2 separate regions of the Homo sapiens genome follow, and region 1 is linked to region 2. Evidence: fine-mapped QTL for protein levels in blood plasma. Region 2 holds a variant in brackets. A gene starts in the other region. All regions are shown on their forward strands.

What was found. A credible set is the group of variants that fine-mapping cannot tell apart. PIP is the chance, under the fine-mapping model, that this variant and not a neighbour inherited with it causes the effect. Protein levels are from antibody-based Olink assays in UK Biobank. Linkage for the fine-mapping came from a reference panel and not from the study's own genotypes, which makes the PIPs less certain.
Region 1: it holds the start of EPHB4, and the variant in region 2 is the best candidate, but not a certain one, in a credible set for the plasma level of the EPHB4 protein (UK Biobank, PIP 0.51).

Annotation. Positions count from the first base shown.
Region 1 is chr7:100,823,839-100,833,457 of GRCh38, forward strand. It overlaps EPHB4 (EPH receptor B4), which reads right to left and starts at 3,685. Exons shown (of 17, transcript NM_004444.5): 1 at 3,141-3,685; 2 at 365-435; 3 at 1-93. The coding sequence starts at 3,192. It also overlaps a transcript of SLC12A9 not described here. RefSeq lists enhancers at 3,689-4,484, 5,281-6,076.
Region 2 is chr19:49,542,621-49,552,381 of GRCh38, forward strand. It overlaps RCN3 (reticulocalbin 3), which reads left to right. Exons shown (of 7, transcript NM_020650.3): 6 at 1-132; 7 at 486-1,013. The coding sequence ends at 593. Among named protein-coding and RNA genes, the nearest start is that of RCN3, 19 kb to the left of the region's middle. The variant GT/G (reference allele first, on the strand shown) is at 3,764.

The DNA of each region.
Region 1 (9,619 bases), not on the chromosome of region 2:
CCAGTGGGCCTGGCCCGGGGCACGCTGCACGTCACACACTTCGTAGGTGCGCACGCTGTGCTGTTCCTCATCCAGGCCGCTCAGTTCCTCCCACTGTGCAGAGAAGGAGGTCAGCAAGGGGGCTGGGGAGCCGCCAGGGAGAGGGCTGCATGGGGTGAATCCTATAAAGTGAGAGGGACTGAGAAAGGGGGGCTGCTGGTACTGCGAGGAGGGCGCCTCTGAGAAGGGCTCAGACGACACTGCTGGGGCTGCTGTCATCTGGGGGGACAGGGGAGAGGAGTGGCACACAGAAAGCAGGCGGCACAGGCGCCCTCTCCTCCCTCAGTTTCCCTCCAGAGCTCCAGCTCCTGGGTGCAGCTCTCACCTGCCCGTCCACCTGAGGGAATGTCACCCACTTCAGATCAGCAGTTTCCAATTTTGTGTTCAGCAGGGTCTCTGAGACAGACAGAGAGACAGAGTCAGTGCCTGGGGTGGGGGAGGGAGGTCAGGAAGACCAGATCCCTGGGAACCGAGGCAGGTGGATCCTCTTAGCTCTGAGCTAGAGGAGTTGGGGGGCCAAGAGGGGAGCAAGCCCTGCCCTCTGCACCCGCCTGATTTCTGGCCTCTTCTGCTAAGTGCCAACCCCACCCCCAACATCTGGTAGGCATGGGGCTCCCTTGGGATACCCCAGATCTAGGCCTCCCTGGAGGAGGGAGGGAGATCAAAATGTACGGGGAGAAGGGGCGGCAGCTCAGAAAGGGTTAAAATGAGAGCTGCGCCCTGGTCCTGACCCCCACGAGCAGAGGCTGCTGGTGTGGGAGGGGAACCTCTTGTCTCAGCCTCCACGTTTCCTCCCCTAAGTCCCAGAATCAGCCTCTCTACCCCACAATTTCATTCCCTGTCCAAGACCCCTCTCTGCTTTCAGACCAAACACCCCGTCCTTCCCTCCTTGAAGGGAGCGCTCCGTGCCTGGGGCATAGCCCTGGCCCCCATCCCAGTACCTCCCTCCCCACGAGTGCCCTGATCAGGAAGCACTGGAGGTCGGGATGCTAGGGTTCCCAGGCTCCCGCCGAGGCCTCACATCTGGATTTGGTTATGGGAAGGCAGAGGGGAGGAGATTCTGGGGGGCGGTATGAATGGGAGGGGTGAACACACCTGGCTTGGCTCGGATCATCGGGGGAGGGGACAGGCACTGGAGGAAGGGGGGGGATTAGGAAAAACTGCACAGCCCCTGGCAGTGGAGAGTGGAGGAGGGAGGGTACAGGAATCCCCTCGGGGGCCGGCAATGTGGGGGGCATTGGGCGCTGGGAAGGGTGGAGAGGGGAGCCAGAACACCTGGCTCCCACCCCATGGGAGCTGCAGGAGAGAAGAGAAAGAGGGTGGGTGAGGCAGCCTCTTCCTGGGGACCAAATGATGTCCTCCAGCTAGGGGTCAGATGGGAAGCCAGCCAGCCTGAGGTGAGAGGCGCAAGGTCCCCATGGGTGGCAAGAGACAGCCCTGCTCACTGGGGACAGGATGCCCGGGTTCTGGGAAGGGGGTGGATAGAGGCTGCCGTCTCCACCCTCCATTGTTCCAGCCGGGATAGTGTTTTCCTGTCTCCAATTTACACACTGTCTCTGCCTCGGGCTGTCCGCAGCCCAGAGCAAGCGCAGGCTCCCTTTCTGCGTCCCAGCTCAGCTGCAGCCACGCTTTGATCTGTCAGTTCGCATGTCTCTCACCTATCTCTCCTCCACTCTCTGTCCACCTCCGTTTCTCTTTCTGACAGTCACTATCTCTCCTTCGCTTTCGGCCTCCACTTCTCGCTGTTCCTCGCGGCACAGGGCCTTGGATAAACTACTTAACCTTAACTAAGCCCCAGCCTCCTCATCTGAAAAATGGGGGCAATAATAGCACCACCCTTAGCGTTGCTGGATGGGTGAAATTAATATTTGTAAGGCGCTCAGCACAGGCCTGGTGCTTGGAAACACTCAGGTAATAGGTGTCACAATCACCATTTCCTCTTTGCGTCTTTCCTTCTCACCACACCTCGTCCTCGTGGTTTTTCCACCCCTTTGGCCTTCCTCTTCCCCTCGTTCATGGTTTTTGTTCCCCCTTCTCCGTTCTCTGAGCTGGGCAAGCCTCCCCTCACTCCCAACCCCACACCTAGCCTTTGATCCCCAGCCCAGGGCAGTCCTGCCCAGCCAGGGGGAGAGGGTTTTTCTAACGCCGCTGAATCCTTCCCTTTGGGAGTCCCTCATAGCCTACCGCCCCATAACCACTTTCATACCAGACAGAGAAAGGGGGGTGTTGGCAGCTCACTGAAAGGACATTAGGGACACAGGAGAGTTTCTAGGGCTCTTGGCTCCCCCTTTAGGGGACCAGGAGGGACAGCGATCCATGGCCAAAGAAATGCTTGGAGAGACCAGGAGGTGGGAGATAGACTGGGTTAGTTAGGGCGATGTGGGGGCTGTGTAGGTCAGTTTCTACCTGGGGGCTGTGTAGGTCAGTTTCTACCCGCTCCTAGGTCTCAAGGGAAGCCCGGGACTCACCTGGGGCCGGGGTCTAGACCGCATTTAAAGGGATGGGGTGCAGCCTGTAGAAACCAAGGAGCCACCCTATACCAGGGGCAGGAGCAGTGGGCGGGAGAGCGGTTTGGGGGTTTGCTGTGTGAATGCAAAGGAGGCCATCCTGTTGCAGGAGTGTGGAACTGGAGGATCAAGGTGTGATCGCTAAGGAATTGGCGCTGGGGGTCGTTTTAGGGCCTAGCACGAAAAGTTGTGCCTTGTCTGCTGTTGCTTCTCCAGAAACCTTCCCTCATGTACGGCGGGAGGTGGGACTGGGACAGAAACTTTGCAGATAGTTTTGAATAGTGGGGTAGGGAGGAAAGGAAAGGCAGCCAGGGGCGTATGTAATCAGCAGTGAGAGTTCGGGGAGCCCGGGCAGGGGAATGTCCCGGGTCGTAGCCAGACTCCATCTCTTTCCCAAACAAAAGAAAACTCCACTACCCGTCGGGCGCCTCTTCCCCGCCCCCCTCCCGTTCCAGCACTATCGGTCCGAAGTGTTTGGGACTGCAGTGCCCGGGTAGGGGTAGTCAGAGGCCGGCCCCTCCACTCCGAGGCCCAGATGTTGGGGGGGAGGTCCCAGGAGTGACGGGGTGCGCCCCCCCCCGCAAGGAAACTCACCTTCCAAAGCTGCGGCCAACGAAGCCCAGCAGAGCAGCACCCGGAGCTCCATGGCGCCGCCTCACTCGGGTAGGATCCGAACTGAGTTTGGGGGGCCCTCGCCCCCCCAGGTCTGACTCTCCCTGGGCGGGTGGACGCCGATACTCCGCGCGGGACTCCTCGTCGGGGCCCTCAGCGCGGGCCCATGCGAGCGTGCGGGGCACCGGGCGGCGGCGCCAAGTGTGGCCCCGCGTCTGTGCCGCGCGCGCGGGCGGCGGGCCCGGAGCGTGCTGGCAGTGGCCGCGCCGGGCGGGCGCGCAGCAAGACGTGGCTGGAGTTGGGGTCCCTCCGGGGCCTCGGGGTCCCGCCCCGGGTGGCGGGGGCTGAGCCGGCCGCTCGCGGTCTCCCCCCCTCCCTGGAGTGGCTCTGCTCGCGCCGCCGGGCCGAGTGCTCTCCTCGCGGGCGGGGATGGTGGGAGCCCGAGCGGGGACGGAGCGGGAGGGAGGGAGACTGCGGCGCGGAGCCGGGCGGGCCGGGCCGGGCAGGGGCTGAGCTGCGCTGGAACTGGGCCGGGCGGCGCCGGGCCCGGGAGGGAGGGGCGCGCGGGGGGCGGGGGCAGCTCTCCCAACGCGGGGGCTCCGCGAGTGAGCCCCGGGCGCGCTGATTGGAGCTCACGCTACTGAATAATTCATGAGGGAAGCGGAGAGGGGCACCGAGTGGAGCAGGTCGGGAAGTTGAGAGAAAGTTTGGAGAAGGGGGAGGGGCGGCGGGTGAGGAACCCCGGGACCGCCCAGATGTGCGCCGTGGCGGTGCGCGCTGTCCAGGACCGAGCATGTCGGGGCTGGGGCCCAGGGACCCCCGGGACAGGCCCGAACCCGGCTGGCACCAGGGAGCAGAGAAAACACACACCCAGCAGCAACACGGAGGGCCGCCCAGGCGTGCACGTAAATGTTCACCGCGCACACAAAGCCCGCTCTGACCTTGCTGCGGACTCTAGATGCCGCTCTTGGATGCGCCCACCACCCTCTAGTGGGCGCAGGGACTGCGTTTTGGGGGAAAAGGAAGGAAAAGGGAGTAGAAGCTTTGGAGAATTGACGGCCGCCCAGGGGGCCTCAAGGAGCAATCCCAGTTTGGATAGCCTTGCAGCGAACGTTCACACAGTCACCCCATAAACATTCAGTGTTGGGGACCTACTGTGCGCGCAACCAAGCCCTGAAAAATGTCCAGAGGAGGCGCGCACTAAGCTGCGCTAGGGAGTAGAGAAAAATCGAGGAAACAACGGTAAAGAAAAGGTGGGTGTGGCGGGCGCGGTGGCTCACGCCTGTAGTCCCAGCATTTTGGGAGGCAGAGGCAGGCGGATCATTTGAGGTCAGGAGTTCAAGACCAGCCTGGCCAACATGATGAAACCCCGTCTCTACTAAAAATACAAAAATTAGCTGGGCATGGTGGCGCGCGCCTGTAATCCTAGCTACTCGGGAGGCTGAGGCAGGAGAATTGCTTGAACCGGGACCTAGGAGGCGGAGGTTGCAGTGAGCTGGGAGCTGAGATCGCGCCACTGCACTCCAGCCTGGGCTACAGAGTGAGACGAAATCTCAAAAAAAAAAAAAAAAAAAAAAAAGGTGGGTGTGTCCGAGAGGGTGAGGGGTCCGGCTAGATCTCCAAATCGCCCTTCTCACTCTCACTCTCGTGTTTTGGGGGGGCTTCCCCGCCGCCCGCAGCCATGACCCCTGAGGCTGGGGCTGCGGCTGCGGCTGCTGTCTTTCCTGAGCTGTTTCCTGTCTGGCTCCTGGGGGCCCTCGGGATGGCTGGGAGGGGCCCTTCCTCTCACTGCCAACTCCCCTCACCCTCCCATCAGTTAGCGGGGAGGGTCCAGCACAGCCGTGCTCCTCCCACCAACCCCCTTCTACTTCAGGGAACTTAACAGTATGGGTTACTGGATAGATGGATTGGAGGGGGTGCTGCTCCAGGAGTCAGCCCCTCCAAGGGGCAGAAGGAAAGGACTTAGACTCCCACAGTAATTAGCGGGGACAGATTTTTTTTTTTTTTTTGAGACAGAGTCTCCCTCTATTTCCCAGGCTGGAGTGCAGTGGCGTGATCTGGGCTCACTGCAACCTCCGCCTCCCAGGTTCAAGCGATTCTCCTGCCTCAGCCTCCCGAGTAGCTGGGATTACAGGCACAGGGCACCAACCCCGGCTAGTTTTCGTATTTTTAGTAGAGACAGGGTTTCGCCATGTTGGCCAGGCTGGTCTCGAACTCCTGACCTAAAGTGATCCACCCACCTTGGCCTCCCAAAGTGCTGGGATTACAGACGTTAGCCACCGCGCCCAGCCGGAGGACAGAATCTTGAGGAGCCCAGCAAGAGAGACGTTGGAGCCCAGCAAGAGAGACGTTGGAGTCCAGGATGCTTGGGGGGCTGCCAAGCGCCCTTACGTCCCAGAAAGGACAGCCGGGCCTGTGATAACCTCTTGTCCCGGCTTACTTATCTTCCTGCTGCAAGAGGTGTTCCCCACACCCCTGCCCTTCCTTGCTGTTCTGCCTGGGTCCTGCGCCCGGGTTGGGGGGGGTGGGCCGGTCACCGAGGGCAGGAAACAGCCGGCTTCACTGGAGCCAGGCAGACCAGGCTGGAGCTGGGAATTCCCTCCTCCCTCCCCGATGCAGGCCCAGTCTCCCCTTCTCTTATTCAGCTTCTCCCTCGGGGTTCTCTGCAACCCTCTCCCAAACCCCTGCCCTGCCTTTTGCCACTCTCACTCTGTACCCAGATCCTGTAGCCTCTAAAAGTTATGTCTTCTGGCTGGGGACAGTAGCTCAGGTCTGTAATCTCAGCATTTTGGGAGGCCGAGGCGGGTGGATCACTTGAGCCCAAGAGTTCGAGACCAGCCTAGCCAACATGGTGAAACCCCTCTCTACTAAAAATACAAAAATCAGCTGGGCATCATGGCACACACCTGTAGTCCCAGCTACTAGGGAGGCTGAGGCACGAGAATCGCTTGAACCCGGGAGGCAGAAGTTGCAGTGAGCAGAGATTGCACCACTGCACTCCAGCCTGGGCAACAGAGCCACACTCTGTCTCCAAAAAATATATAAAGTAAATAAATAAGTAAATAAATAAATAGGCTGGGCGCAGTGGCTCACACCTGTAATCCCAGCACTTTGGGAGGCCGAGGCAGGCGGATCACCTGAGGTCAGGAGTTCGAGACCAGCCTGGCCAACATAGTGAAACCCCTTCTCTACTGAAAATACAAAACTTAGCCAGGTGTGGTGGTGCAGGCCTGCAGTCCCAGCTACTCGGGAGGCTGAGACAGGAGAATTGCTTGAACCCTGGGAGGCAGAGGTTGCAGTGAGCTGAAATCGTGCCACTGCACTCCAGCCTGGGCAACAGAGTGAAACTCTGTCTCAAAACATAAATTAATTAAACAATAGAAAACACTCATCTTAGTGGGGCACAGTGACTCATACCTGTAATGCCAGCACTTTTGGAGGCTGAGATGAGAGGATCGTTTCAGTCCAGGAGTTTGAGGGCAGCCTGAACAACATAGCGAGACCCTGTCTACAAAAAAAGAAAGAAAGAAAGAGAGAAAACATTCTATTCCATGTCAGGTCATCAGCCCACACCCCACACCAGGCAGTAATCTATTTTCTACCATCTAGTGTATGCCAGTCAAAGAATGAAAAAATGAAATCTTTACTGAGCATCTACTACGTGCCGAGTGATCACATTGCTAGTTTTCAAGATTTGTAAAACATGGTTCCTGGCCTCAAAGAGAATCTGGTAAAAATTAATATAGTTTTATGTCATCTGGTGAATTACAACCTGGTAGAAAAAAAATCCCATGATTTCCCCTTTACGTGGAGATGGCATCTGAGATTTTCACTTCAATTCTCAGGAACCACCCTTGGTCTATCCTGTGTGTGTGAAGTCATGTCCTCCACCCTTAGACCACCCAGAACCACTTCCCAGGCAAGCAAATTCAGTAGCCACTAAATTACAGAACGTGGGTGAACATTCACGTTACTACCTGAATCCATGCCTGTTCTGCAGACCAAACCAAACTCAGCCCTCCCTTCCTCATTATTAGAGCACTTTGCTGTTCCCTACCCAAAATATTAGGCTGTCACCTTTGTTCCCAGCCCAGAGCAATATACTGCTATCACACGGTGCATTGTCGGTACTTGCGCATAGCATCCACCAACAGCTACTGGAGTTTTCTTTTTCTTTTCTTTTGTATTTTATTTTATTTTATTTTTGGAGACGGCGTTTCACTCTTGTTGCCCAGGCTGGAGTGCAAAGGTGCGATCTCGGCTCACCACAACCTCTGCCTCCTGGGTTCAAGTGATTCTCCCGCCTCAGCCTCCCAGGTAGCTGGGATTACAGGCATATGCCACCACACCGGGCTAATTTTGTATTTTTAGTAGACGCGGGGTTTCTCCATGTTGGTCAGGCTGGTCTGGAACTCCTGACCTAAGGTGATCCACCTGCCTTGGCCTCCCAAAGTGCTGGGATTACAGGCGTGAGCCACTGCACGTGGCTCTTTTTTTTAGAGATAGGGTCTTACTGTATTGCCCAGGCTGGAGTGCAGTGGCACGGTCATGGCTCACTGCAGCCTTGACCTCCTGGGCTCGAGCAATCTTTCCTCAGCCTCCTGAGGAGCTGGGACCCCGCGCGGGGACCATGCCCGGCTAATAAGTTTACTTTTTCTTGTACAGATTGTGACAGTTGTTTTGAGTAATCCTGGAGTTACAGCTTTTCCTATTGTAAGAAATAACAAGCAGCAAATCACCCCTTTCTCCGTAAATTGTTGAACTTCTCATTACTCTTTCCACATCTCAGTCTCCCCTCTTCTGGGCCACCTAACTGTGTCGGGTCCAAAGTTCAGGTTTACCCCAAAGTTCATGAAGTTTAAGCTTCAGCACCTCTCACCTGCCTGGCTTCTTCCACGGCCCTGGTTAATAAGTGCCATAATTTAAACAGTTTTGAAGGTGAGTTTCAGCAGGACAACACTTGAAATGACCTGAAATCTTACAGCTCTGTTACAAAAGGAATTTGATAGAGTTTTCAACATTACCAATAGAGTTGTAAAGCTCAAATAAATTTTTATAAACAATGATGAAACCTTAAAAACTTAGCCAGGCTACTCGGGAGGCTGAGGCAGGAGAATCACTTGAACTTGGGAGGCGGAGGTTGCAGTGAGCCGAGATCGCGCCACTGCACTCCAGCCTGGCAACAGAGCGAGACTCCGTCCCACTCCCACCAAAAAAAAATAACTTAGCCAGGCACTGTGGCTCACACCTGTAATTCCAGCACTTTGGGAAGCCAAGGCAGGAGGATTGCTTGAGTCCTGGAGTTTGAGACCGGCCTGGGCAACAAAGTGAGACCCCTGTCTCTACCAGAAAATAAAAAATAAAAAATAGCTGGGCGTGGTGGCATGTGGCTATGGTCTCTCAGACACTGGGGAGGCCGAGGTGGGAGGATCACTGAGCCTGAGAGGTCTAGGCTGCAGGGAGCCGTGATGGCACCACTGCACTCCAACCTGGGCAACAGAGCGAGACCCCATCTCTAAGCAAAAATTAATCAGCCATCCTAGAGGAAAGACAGAGAAAGAATAGAAAATAATATTACAAAATCATCATATGAAGAGATGGTCAAAGAGTACACATCTAAGAAAAAGGTAGTAAATGCAAGTATTCCAGGGCTATATCAGTCTTCTTTACTATAAATGTTGTTATTTTTCTAGCTTGTATAATATTTATGATATTTGTCATATTTTAAACATTTGAGGTCAGCTGTGATTTCTTCTCTCAATCCAAAGATTTTATACCTTTTTTTTTCTTTTTTTAAGAGACAGGGTCTCCCTTTGTCACCCATGCTGGAGTGCAGTGGCACGATCGAGGCTCACTGCAGCCTCGAACTCCCAGGCTCAAGCGATCCTCCTGCCTCAGCCTCCCAAGTAGCTGAGACTACAGGCGTGTGCCACCATGCCTAGCTAATATTTTTAGTGTTTGTACAGACAGGGTCTCACTATGTTGCGCAGGCTGGTCTTGAACTCTTGAGCTCAAGTGATTGTCTAGCCTCAGCCTCCCAAAGTCCTATGATTACAGGTGTGATCCACTGCACCTGGCCTGGCTAATTTATTTTATTTTATTTTTATTTTTTGTAGACATGAGGTCTTGCTATGTTGTCCAGGCTGGTCTCAAACTCCTACCTAATTCTAGCACTGTGTGAGGCCAAAAAAAAAGTTGAAAAAAAGGCTGGGCGCAGTGGCTCACACCTGTAATCTTAGCACTTTGGGAGGCCGAGGCGGGTGGATCACCTGAGGTTGGGAGTTCAAGACCTGCCTGGCCCGTCTCTACTAAAAATAGAAAAATTAGCCAGTTACAGTGGCACACGCCTGTAATCCCAGCTACTCAGGAGGCTGAGGCACGAGAATTGCTTGAATCCAGGAGGCAGAGGTTGCAGTGAGCCAAGATTGTACCACTGCACTCCAGGCTGGGTGACAGAGCGA
Region 2 (9,761 bases):
CGGGACTTCCGGGATCTGAACAAGGATGGGCACCTGGATGGGAGTGAGGTGGGCCACTGGGTGCTGCCCCCTGCCCAGGACCAGCCCCTGGTGGAAGCCAACCACCTGCTGCACGAGAGCGACACGGACAAGGTGCAGTGACGGGGCCTCGGCAGGAGCGAGGAGCGGGTGGGCATTGCGGGCCAGACTCCAGAAAGGAGCAAGACCTGGGCCTGGAGCTCAGGGTCCCTTTTAGGTGGGATAAAAAAAGAGGGACAGAGAGAGGGAGGAAAAGAGAGGGCACGGAGCCCCAGAAAGAGAGGGGGACAGAGACCCAGAGACCCAAAGAGAGAAGGACAGGGACCAAGACGGGGACAGATTCAGAGAGAAAGGGACAGAGGCCCAGAGAACAAGGGTCCCAGAGACTTCGGGACACGCTTGGATGCAGGGAGGGCTTTTGAAAGCAGGGCCGTGTTGTCCCCTCTGAACCCTGACCCTCCCTCCAGGATGGGCGGCTGAGCAAAGCGGAAATCCTGGGTAATTGGAACATGTTTGTGGGCAGTCAGGCCACCAACTATGGCGAGGACCTGACCCGGCACCACGATGAGCTGTGAGCACCGCGCACCTGCCACAGCCTCAGAGGCCCGCACAATGACCGGAGGAGGGGCCGCTGTGGTCTGGCCCCCTCCCTGTCCAGGCCCCGCAGGAGGCAGATGCAGTCCCAGGCATCCTCCTGCCCCTGGGCTCTCAGGGACCCCCTGGGTCGGCTTCTGTCCCTGTCACACCCCCAACCCCAGGGAGGGGCTGTCATAGTCCCAGAGGATAAGCAATACCTATTTCTGACTGAGTCTCCCAGCCCAGACCCAGGGACCCTTGGCCCCAAGCTCAGCTCTAAGAACCGCCCCAACCCCTCCAGCTCCAAATCTGAGCCTCCACCACATAGACTGAAACTCCCCTGGCCCCAGCCCTCTCCTGCCTGGCCTGGCCTGGGACACCTCCTCTCTGCCAGGAGGCAATAAAAGCCAGCGCCGGGACCTTGTGTGTCTGTCTGTTGTCTGCCTGTCTCTATGAAGGGTAAGGGGGCCCTGGAGATGGTTTGGGGGCTGTGACTGGGAGTTGGGGGCTGAGACATGCAATAGGGGACCAGGCATTTGAAGGAGGGGTGCTGGGTGTTGGAGGGATTGGAGGGCGTTCCTCAGTATAAAACAAACAAACAAAAAAAATTGGGCCAGGCCCGGTGGCTCACGCCTGTAAGCCCAGCAATTTGGGAGGCTGAGGCGGGTAGATCACGAGGTCGGGGGTCCTAGACCAGCCTGGCCAACATGGTGAAACCCCGTCTCTACTAGAAATACAAAAATTAACCAGGCCTGGTGATGGGCACCTATAATCCCAGCTACTCTGGAGGCTGAAGCAGAATCGCTTGAACCCGGGAGGTGGAGGTTGTCGTGAGCCGAAATGGCGCCACTGCACTCCAGCCTGGGTGACAGAGGGAGACTCTGTCTCAAAAAAAAAAGGGAAAAAAAGCCTGGACTCTGCAGCGCACAAACCAGACAGGAAGCCCTGCCCTCTCAGAGCTCCAGTTCTGTAAGGAAGAGACACAGCGACCTAAAATATGGCACGGCGCAACAGATGCTGTGAAGCAGGGGAAGCGTGTAGCAGTGTGGCAATGTTCTGATGACTGAGAGGCTGGGAAAGGTCTCAATGGTAAATGGAGTGAAGGAGGGAGCCACGGAGAGATCTGGAGGGAGAGCATTCCAGGGAGAGAGAAGAGCAAGTAAAATGGCCCTGAGGCAGGAGTGGGCCTGGTGTGGCAGCATCAGCAAGGAGGCTAGAGTGGCTGGAAGGGAATGAGCCAGTGGAAGAGGGTCAGAGCTGAGAGCAGATGGGGCAAGTGGCCAGACTGTGCAGGCCCCTGCAGGCAGGTCATGGTGGTCCCTGTTTGGTGGCACAAGACAGGGATGGACAGAGACCCAGAGAGAAGGGGTGGGGAGTCAGAGAGAGAGGGACAGAGACCCAGAGAGAGAGGGGAACAGAGACCCAGAGAGAGAGGGACAGAGACCCAGAGAGAGAGGGGAACAGAGACCCAGAGAGAGAGGGGAACAGAGACCCAGAGAGAGAGAGGGGAACAGAGACCCAGAGAGAGGGAGACAGAAACTCAGAGAGAGGGAAACAGAGACCCAGAGAGTGGGGGACAGAGATCCAAAGAGAATGGGGATAGAGACCCAGAGAGACACAGAATTTATTCTGAGTGACATGAGAGTCGCTGGAGTGTCATGAGCAGAGGAGGGATTATAAACTGCTTTGAGTTATTTAAGAGTCGGGTTGGGCGCAGTGGTTCACGCCTGTAATCCCAAGGATTAATCAAGGATTGCTTGAGGCCAGGAGTTCAAGACCAGTCTGGGATGATCTTTTATAAAGATGGCATCTCTTTTTTTTTTTCTTTCTTTTTTTTTGAGACGGAGTCTCGCTCTGTCGCCCAGGCTGGAGTGCAGTGGCGCACTCTCACCTCACTGCAAGCTCCACCTCCCGGGCTCACGCCATTTATAGAGACCATATCTCTATTTAAAAATTAGTTTATGGCCGGGCACGGTGGTTCACGCCTGTAATCCCAGCTCTTTCAGAGGCCGAGGCAGGCAGATCACGAGGTCAGTAGATCGAGACCATCCTGGCTAACACGGTGAAACCCCGCCTCTACTAAAAAATACAAAAAATTAGCCAGGCATGGTGGCGGGCGCCTGTAGTCCCAGCTACTCGGGAGGCTGAGGCAGGAGAATGGCCTGAACCCGGGAGGCGGAGCTTGTAGTGAGCCGAGATCGCGCCACTGCACTCCAGCCTGGGAGACAGAGCGAGACTCTGTCTCAAAAAAAAAAATTAACTTACTAAAAAAATTAATTTACTAATTAATTTTTAAAAAGGAAATTCAAGAACAGGCAAAACTAATCTGGGGGTTAGAACTCAGGATGTTGTTCACCCTTGCGGGGGAGGGACCAGAATGGACCTCATGGGCTTCTTATCGGGAGAGGGAGGCTGGAAAATAGCCTATTCTTGATCTAGGTACTGCTTCCCAGGGGTGGTCAGATTATGAAAATTCATTCAGTTCTCCACATGTGATGTATGCCCTTTTATGCATGATAGAATTCAATTCAAAATTTACTTTTTTTTTTTTTTTTTTTTTGAGACAGAGTTTTGCTCTTGTTGCCCAGGCTGGAGTGCAATGGCACAATCTCGGCTCACTGCAACCTCCACCTCCCAGGTTCAAGCGATTCTCCTGCCTCAGCCTCCTGAGTAGCTGGGATTACAGGCATGCACCACCACGCCTGGCTAATTTTGTATTTTTAGTAGAGACAGGGTTTCTCCATGTTGGTCAGGCTGGTATCGAACTCCTGACCTCAGGTGATCCACCTGCCTCAGCCTCCCAAAGTGCTGGGATTACAGGCTTGAGCCATTGTGCCTGGCCGATAGCTATTTTTTTTTTTTTTTTTTTTTTTTTTTTTTGAGATGGAGTCTTGCTCTTGTCATCCTGGCTGGAGTGCAATGGCATGATCTTGACTCACTGCAACCTCCACCTCCCGGGCTGAAGTGATTCTCCTGTCTCAGCCTCCCGAGTAGCTGGGATTACTGGCATGGACCACCACGCCCGGCTAATTTTTGTATTTTTATTAGAGACGGGGTTTCACCATGTTGGCCAGGCTGGTCTCGAACTCCCGACCTCAGGTGATCCGCCCTCCCCGACCTCCCAAATTTCTGGGATCACAGGCATGAGCCACCGTGCCTGGCCAGTTCG[GT/G]TTTTTTTTTTAGGTTTACCTGGGCTTTTTGGAGTGTACCCATGCAGCCAGGTGTGGTTCAGGGTCAGCTAGATATTTGAGTAGAGTTGGGCCGTGTGCGGTGACTCACGCCTGTAATCCCAACACTTTGGGAGGCCGAGGCAGGCGGATCATGAGGTCAGGAGATCGAGAGCATCCTGGCTAACACGGTGAAACCCCGTCTCTACTAAAAATATTTAAAAAATTAGCCTGGGCGTGGTGTTGGGGGCCTGTAGTCCCAGCTACTCGGGAGGCTGAGGCAGGAGAATGGCGTGAACCCGGTAGGCGGAGTTTGCACCACTGCCCTCCAACCTGGGCGACAGAGGGAGACTCCGTCTCAAAAAAAAAAAAAAAAAAAAAAAAAAAAAAGATACTTGAGTAGAGTTTATAGAAACCATTCCAGGTACCCTCTCTCCAGCTTTTCTTTTCCAGGATTTATCTCCTCACCTTCCTTTTGCTGTAGTTCTTCAAGCTAGGAAGACTGGATTTCCCTCTGGTGTTTTAGCTGCCAGTCATGGTATGAACTAGAACTCACCCCCAAGTAAAAGCTGTACAAATAAGAAACTCGCCTTTCTTTTTTCTGAGTGTCAAGTTCCCTCCAGTTGCTCTGTCTGCTTTTGTTTACCTTCCAGTGCCTTGCCTTTGGGTAATTGTTTTCCACGTTTTTTCCAGGGTTTATAGCTGTTGTCTGTGTGGGAGGGCTGGAATTTGAATCCAAGCGCGTCTGACTCCAAGCGTTTTCGTATGATAACATACTGCCCTCTAGTGGCTGGATGTGGAGAACTGGTTTATGTGGGAGGAAGGGCATATTGGTAAATCTCTGAGGGCTGCATGTTTGGAAACATTGTTTATCGAAAACAATACCCACACATAGCAACAAATTACTTGCACAGAACAGTTTATGGTGAAAAACTGCCTAGCATCTTGTCACACTTACTGCTTCTCTCCAGAATTTTTTTAGTTTTAAAATATTCTTGCATATTTTATTTTAAAATAATGGCCATACTCTCACAGGATACAAAACCCGAAATATACAGGATGCTACAAGCTAAAAACAACGCCTTCCACTAAGTTCAACTCTTCACAGACAGCCAGTGTTTCCTACCATGGAGAATCTACACAGATTTAAGCAAATATGTACAAATAGTCTTTATTTTTTTTTGGAAGACGAATCTCGATTTGTCTCCCAGGCTGGAGTGCAGTGGTGCAATCTTGTCTCACTGCAACCTCCGCCTCCCAGGTTCAAGCGATACTCCTGCCTCAGCCTCCCGAGTAACTGGGATAACGGGCACGGGCCACCATGCCAGCTAATTTTTTGTGTGTTTTTTTGTTTTTTTGTTTTTTTTGAGACGGAGTCTCGCTCTGTCGCCCAGGCTGGAGTGCAGTGGCGCGATATCGGCTCACTGCAAGCTCCGCCTCCCGGGTTCACGCCATTCTCCTGCCTCAACCTCCCAAGTAGCTGGGACTACAAGCGCCCGCCACCACTGCCCGGCTAATTTTTTTGTTTTTTAGTAGAGACGAGTTTCACTGTGTTAGCCAGGATGGTCTCGATCTCCTGACCTCGTGATCCGCCCCACCTCGGCCTCCCAAAGTGCTGGGATTAGAGGGGTGAGCCACCGCGCCCAGCCATTTTTTGTATTCTTAATAGAGACGGAGTTTCGCCATGTTGGCCAGGCTGGTCTCGAACTCCTGATCTCAGGTGATCCGGCTGCCTCGGCCTCCCAAGTGCTGAGATTACAGGCGTGAACCACCATGTCTTGCTAATTTTTGTATTTTTAGCAGAGAGGGGGTTTCACCATGTTGGTCAGGCTGGTCTTGAACTCCTGACCTCGAGATCTGCCCTCCTCAGCCCCCCAAAGTGCTGGGATTACAGGTGTCACCCACCGCTTCCGGCCGCGTTTTTTGGTTTGTTTGTTTTGTGTGTGTGTTTTTTGTTTTGTTTTGTTTTGTTTTTTGAGATGGAGTCTTGCTGTGTCGCCCAGGCTGGAGAGCAGCGGCTCAATCTCAGCTCACTGCAACTTCCGCCTCCTGGGTTCAAGAGATTCTCCTGCCTCAGTCTTCCTAGTAGTTGAGATTACTGGTGCCGGCCACCGTGGCTGGCTACTTTTTGCGTTTTTAGTAGAGACAGGGTTTCACCATGTTCGCCAGGCTGGTCTCGAACTCCTGACCTCAGGTGATCCACCCACCTCAGCCTCCCAAAGTGCTGGGATTACAAGTATGAGCCACCACGCCTGGCCCTGGCCTGCGTTTTTTAAGACATAATCTTGCTCTGCCACCTAGGCCAGAGTACTGTGGCACTCCAGTTGCAGAGAGCCAACATTGTGCCATTGCACTCCACTGATCTCAGCTCACTGATCTCAGCCAGCTGCAAGCGATTCTCGTGCTTCAGCCTCCCTAGTAGCTGGGATTACAGGCGTGTAACACCACGCCCAGCTAATTTTTGTATTTTTAATAGAGATGGAGTTTCACCATGTTGTCCAGGCTGGTCTCAAACTCCTAAGCTCAAGCAATCTTCCTACCCCAGTCCCACAAAGTGCTGAAATCATGGGCAGGAGCCACTGCGCCCAGCCATTCTAGCTCGTGTTTTGCTGAGCATCGTCGCATGTCTTTGGGGTACACACACAGGAGTGAGGTAGTGGAGCACCGGCTAGGCGCATTTTTAGCGTTAATCGATATTGCCAATTCATTTCCCCAGTTTACGTGCCCACCAGCGTTGTAGACAAGTTCCAGTTTCTCCACATCCTGACCAACGCTTATTAGAATAAACTTTTGAACTGTTTTTGCTTTTAGTTCTTCCGTTGGTGACCTCCCCACTTGCAGATCAGCAGATCAAATCCCCATGCTGTTGACAACACGCTGGGAGCAAAGAGCCAGGTGGAGCTTCTAACGAAGTCAGATCTTCTGATATTTTAAAAGCTGAGATAAAATTCACAGGCCATAAAATTAACCCTTGGTCGGGCGTGGTGGCTACGCCTGTAATCCTAGCACTTCAGGAGGCCAAGGTGGGCAGATCACTTGAGGCCAGGAGTTCAAGACCAGCCTGGACAACATGACGAAACTCTATCTCTATTAAAAATACAAAAATTAGCCGGGCGTGGTGGCACATGCCTGTAATCCCAGCTACTCAGGAGGCTGGGACAAGAGAATCGATTGAACCCGGGAGGCGGAGGTTGCAGTGAGCCAAGATCGTGCCACTGCACTCCAGCCTGGGTGACAGAACCAGACTTTGTCTCAAAAAAAAAAAAAAAAAAAAAAAAAACCCACACCCCATCAGCAGTCACTATCCCCTCTCTCTCTGCACTCCCAGCCCCGGACAGCCACTAACTACTTTCTTTTGCTATGGATTTGCCTATTCTGGGCATCTCATTATAAATGCAATCGTACGTGTGACCTTTCGTGCTGGGCTTCTTTCAGCATGTTTTCCAGATCCATCCACACTGTAGCCCGTGTCAGGACGTCATTGCTTTTTTTTTTTTTTTTTTTTTTGAGATGGAGTCTCACTCTGTTGCCCAGGCTGGAGTGCAGTGGCGCGATCTCGGCTCACTGCAAGCTCCACTTCCCGGGTTCATGCCATTCTCCTGCCTCAGCCTGCCGAGTAGCTGGGACTACAGGTGCCCACCATCACACCCGGCTAATTTTTTGTATTTTTAGTAGAGATGGGGTTTCACCGTGTTAGCCAAGATGGTCTCGATCTCCTGACCTCATGATCTGCCCGTCTCGGCCTCCCGAAGTGCTGGGATTACAGGCATGAGCCACTGCGCCCGGCCCAACGTCATTCCTTTTTAGGGCTGAGTAATATTCCATGGCACGGGCTAGACCACATTTTGTCTCCACTCATCAGCTGACGGGCTTTTGGGTTGTTTCCACTTCTGGGCTATGGTGAATGGTGCTGTTAGGGTCATTCATGTGCATTTGTTTTGCCTCAGCCTCCCAAGTAGCTGGGATTAAAGGTGTCTGCCACCACGCCTGGCTAATTTTTGTATTTTTGGTAGAGATAGGGTTTCACCATGCTGGCCAGGCTGGTCTCGAACTCATGACCTCGTGATCCGCCCACCTCGGCCTCCCAGATCACGTACATATTTTTGTGTGGACCTGTTTTCAGTTTCTTGGGTAGATAACTAGGAGGGGAATTGTGAAGCTGATTTTTCCTTTTATACATGTCTCACTCTGTCACCCAGGCTGGAATACAGAGGTGGGATCACAGCTGGACCTCCTGGGCTCACACCATCTTCTGGCTTCGGTCTCCCATGCAGCTGGGACTACAGGTGGGCACCACCATGCCCAGCTAATGTATTCTTTTTTGTAGAGATGGGGTCTTGCTACAATGGCCAGGCTGGTCGCCAACTCCTGGGTTCAAGCAATCCTCCTGACTCGGCCTCCCAAAGTGTTGGGATTACAGGCGTGAACCACCTTGCTTGGGCTGATTTTTTTTTTTTAGATGGAGTCTCGCTCTGTCTCCAGGCTGCAATGCAGTGGCACGATCTCAGCTCACTGCAACCTCCACCTCCCAGGTTCAAGCGATTCTCCTGCCTCAGCCTCCCGAGTAGCTGGGACTACAGGCTGTGCCACCACGTCCAGTTAATTTTTGTATTTTTAGTAGAGACGGGGTTTCACCATGTTGGCCAGGATGGTCTCTATCTCTTGACCTAGTGATCCGCTCCCGCCTCAGCCCCCCAAAGTGCTGGGATTACAGGCGTGAGCCACCGCACCTGGCCATGCATTTCTCTTTAAAAAGAGAAATGGGGCCTGTAATCCCAGCACTTTGGGAGGCCGAGGCAGGTGGATCACTTGAGGTCAGGAGTTCAAGACCAGCCTGGCCAATGTGGTGAGATCCCTTCCCTACTTAAAAAATACAAAAATTATCCAGGCACAGTGGCTCACGCCTGTAATCTCAGCACTTTGGGAGGCCGAGGCGGGCGGATCACGAGGTCAAGAGTTCAAGATCAGCCTGGCCAACATAAGTGAAACCCCGTCTCTACTAAAAATACAAAAAAATTTAGCCGGGCGTGGTGGTGGGCGCCTGTAGTCTCAGTTCCGTGGGAGGCTGAGGCAGGAGAATTGCTTGAACCCAGGAGGCAGAGGTTGCAGTGAGCCGAAATCAGGCCACTGCACTCCAGCCTGGGCGACAGGGCGAGACTCCGTCTCAAAAACAAAAAAAGAGAAATGGAAATCTAGTTTTTCACATGAAATCTCCCAGCTCCTTTTTTGCATTTGAAAACTTCATACAGTAAAATCCACTCCTTTTGGTGAACAGTTCTGAATTCTGATAAACCAGAGTCATGTAACCACCACAGTCAAAATCCGGAACTGTTCCTTCACACCCCCCCAGAATCTCTCTTGCTACTCCCCACTTTGGGGTCAACTCCTTCCCCTACTCTGGCAACGAAAGCTTTGTTCCTGGTTCGTATAGTTTTGCCTTTGCAGTGTCAGAATAAATCTTCCTGTTTTTATTTTCTATTGTTTTGATATGGGGTCTCGCTCTGTAGCTCAGACTGGAGTGCAGTGGTGCTATCGCAGCTCACTGCAGCCTCCACCTCCTGGGTTCAAGCGATTCTCCTGCCTCAGCCTCCTGAGTAGCTGGGATTACAGGGGTGCTCCACCACACCCAGCTAATTTTTGTATTTTTAGTAGAGACAGGGATTCACCATGTGGACCAGGCTGGTCTCCAACTCCTGACCTGAGGCAATCCACCTGCTTTGGCCTCCCAAAGTGCTGGGATTACAGGTGTGAGCTACCAGGCCCAGCCATCTTCCTGTTTTTAATTTTTTTTTTGAGATGGAGTTTTGCTCATGCTGCCCAGGCTGGAGTGCAGTGGTGCGATCTCGGCTCACTGCAACCTCCATCTCCCGGGTTCAAGCAATTCTCCTGCTTCAGCCTCCCAAGTAGCTGGGATTACAGGCCTGTGCCACCACACCCGATTAAGTTTGTATTTTTTTTTAGTAGAGATGAGGTTTCACCGTGTTGGCCAGGCTGGTCCCA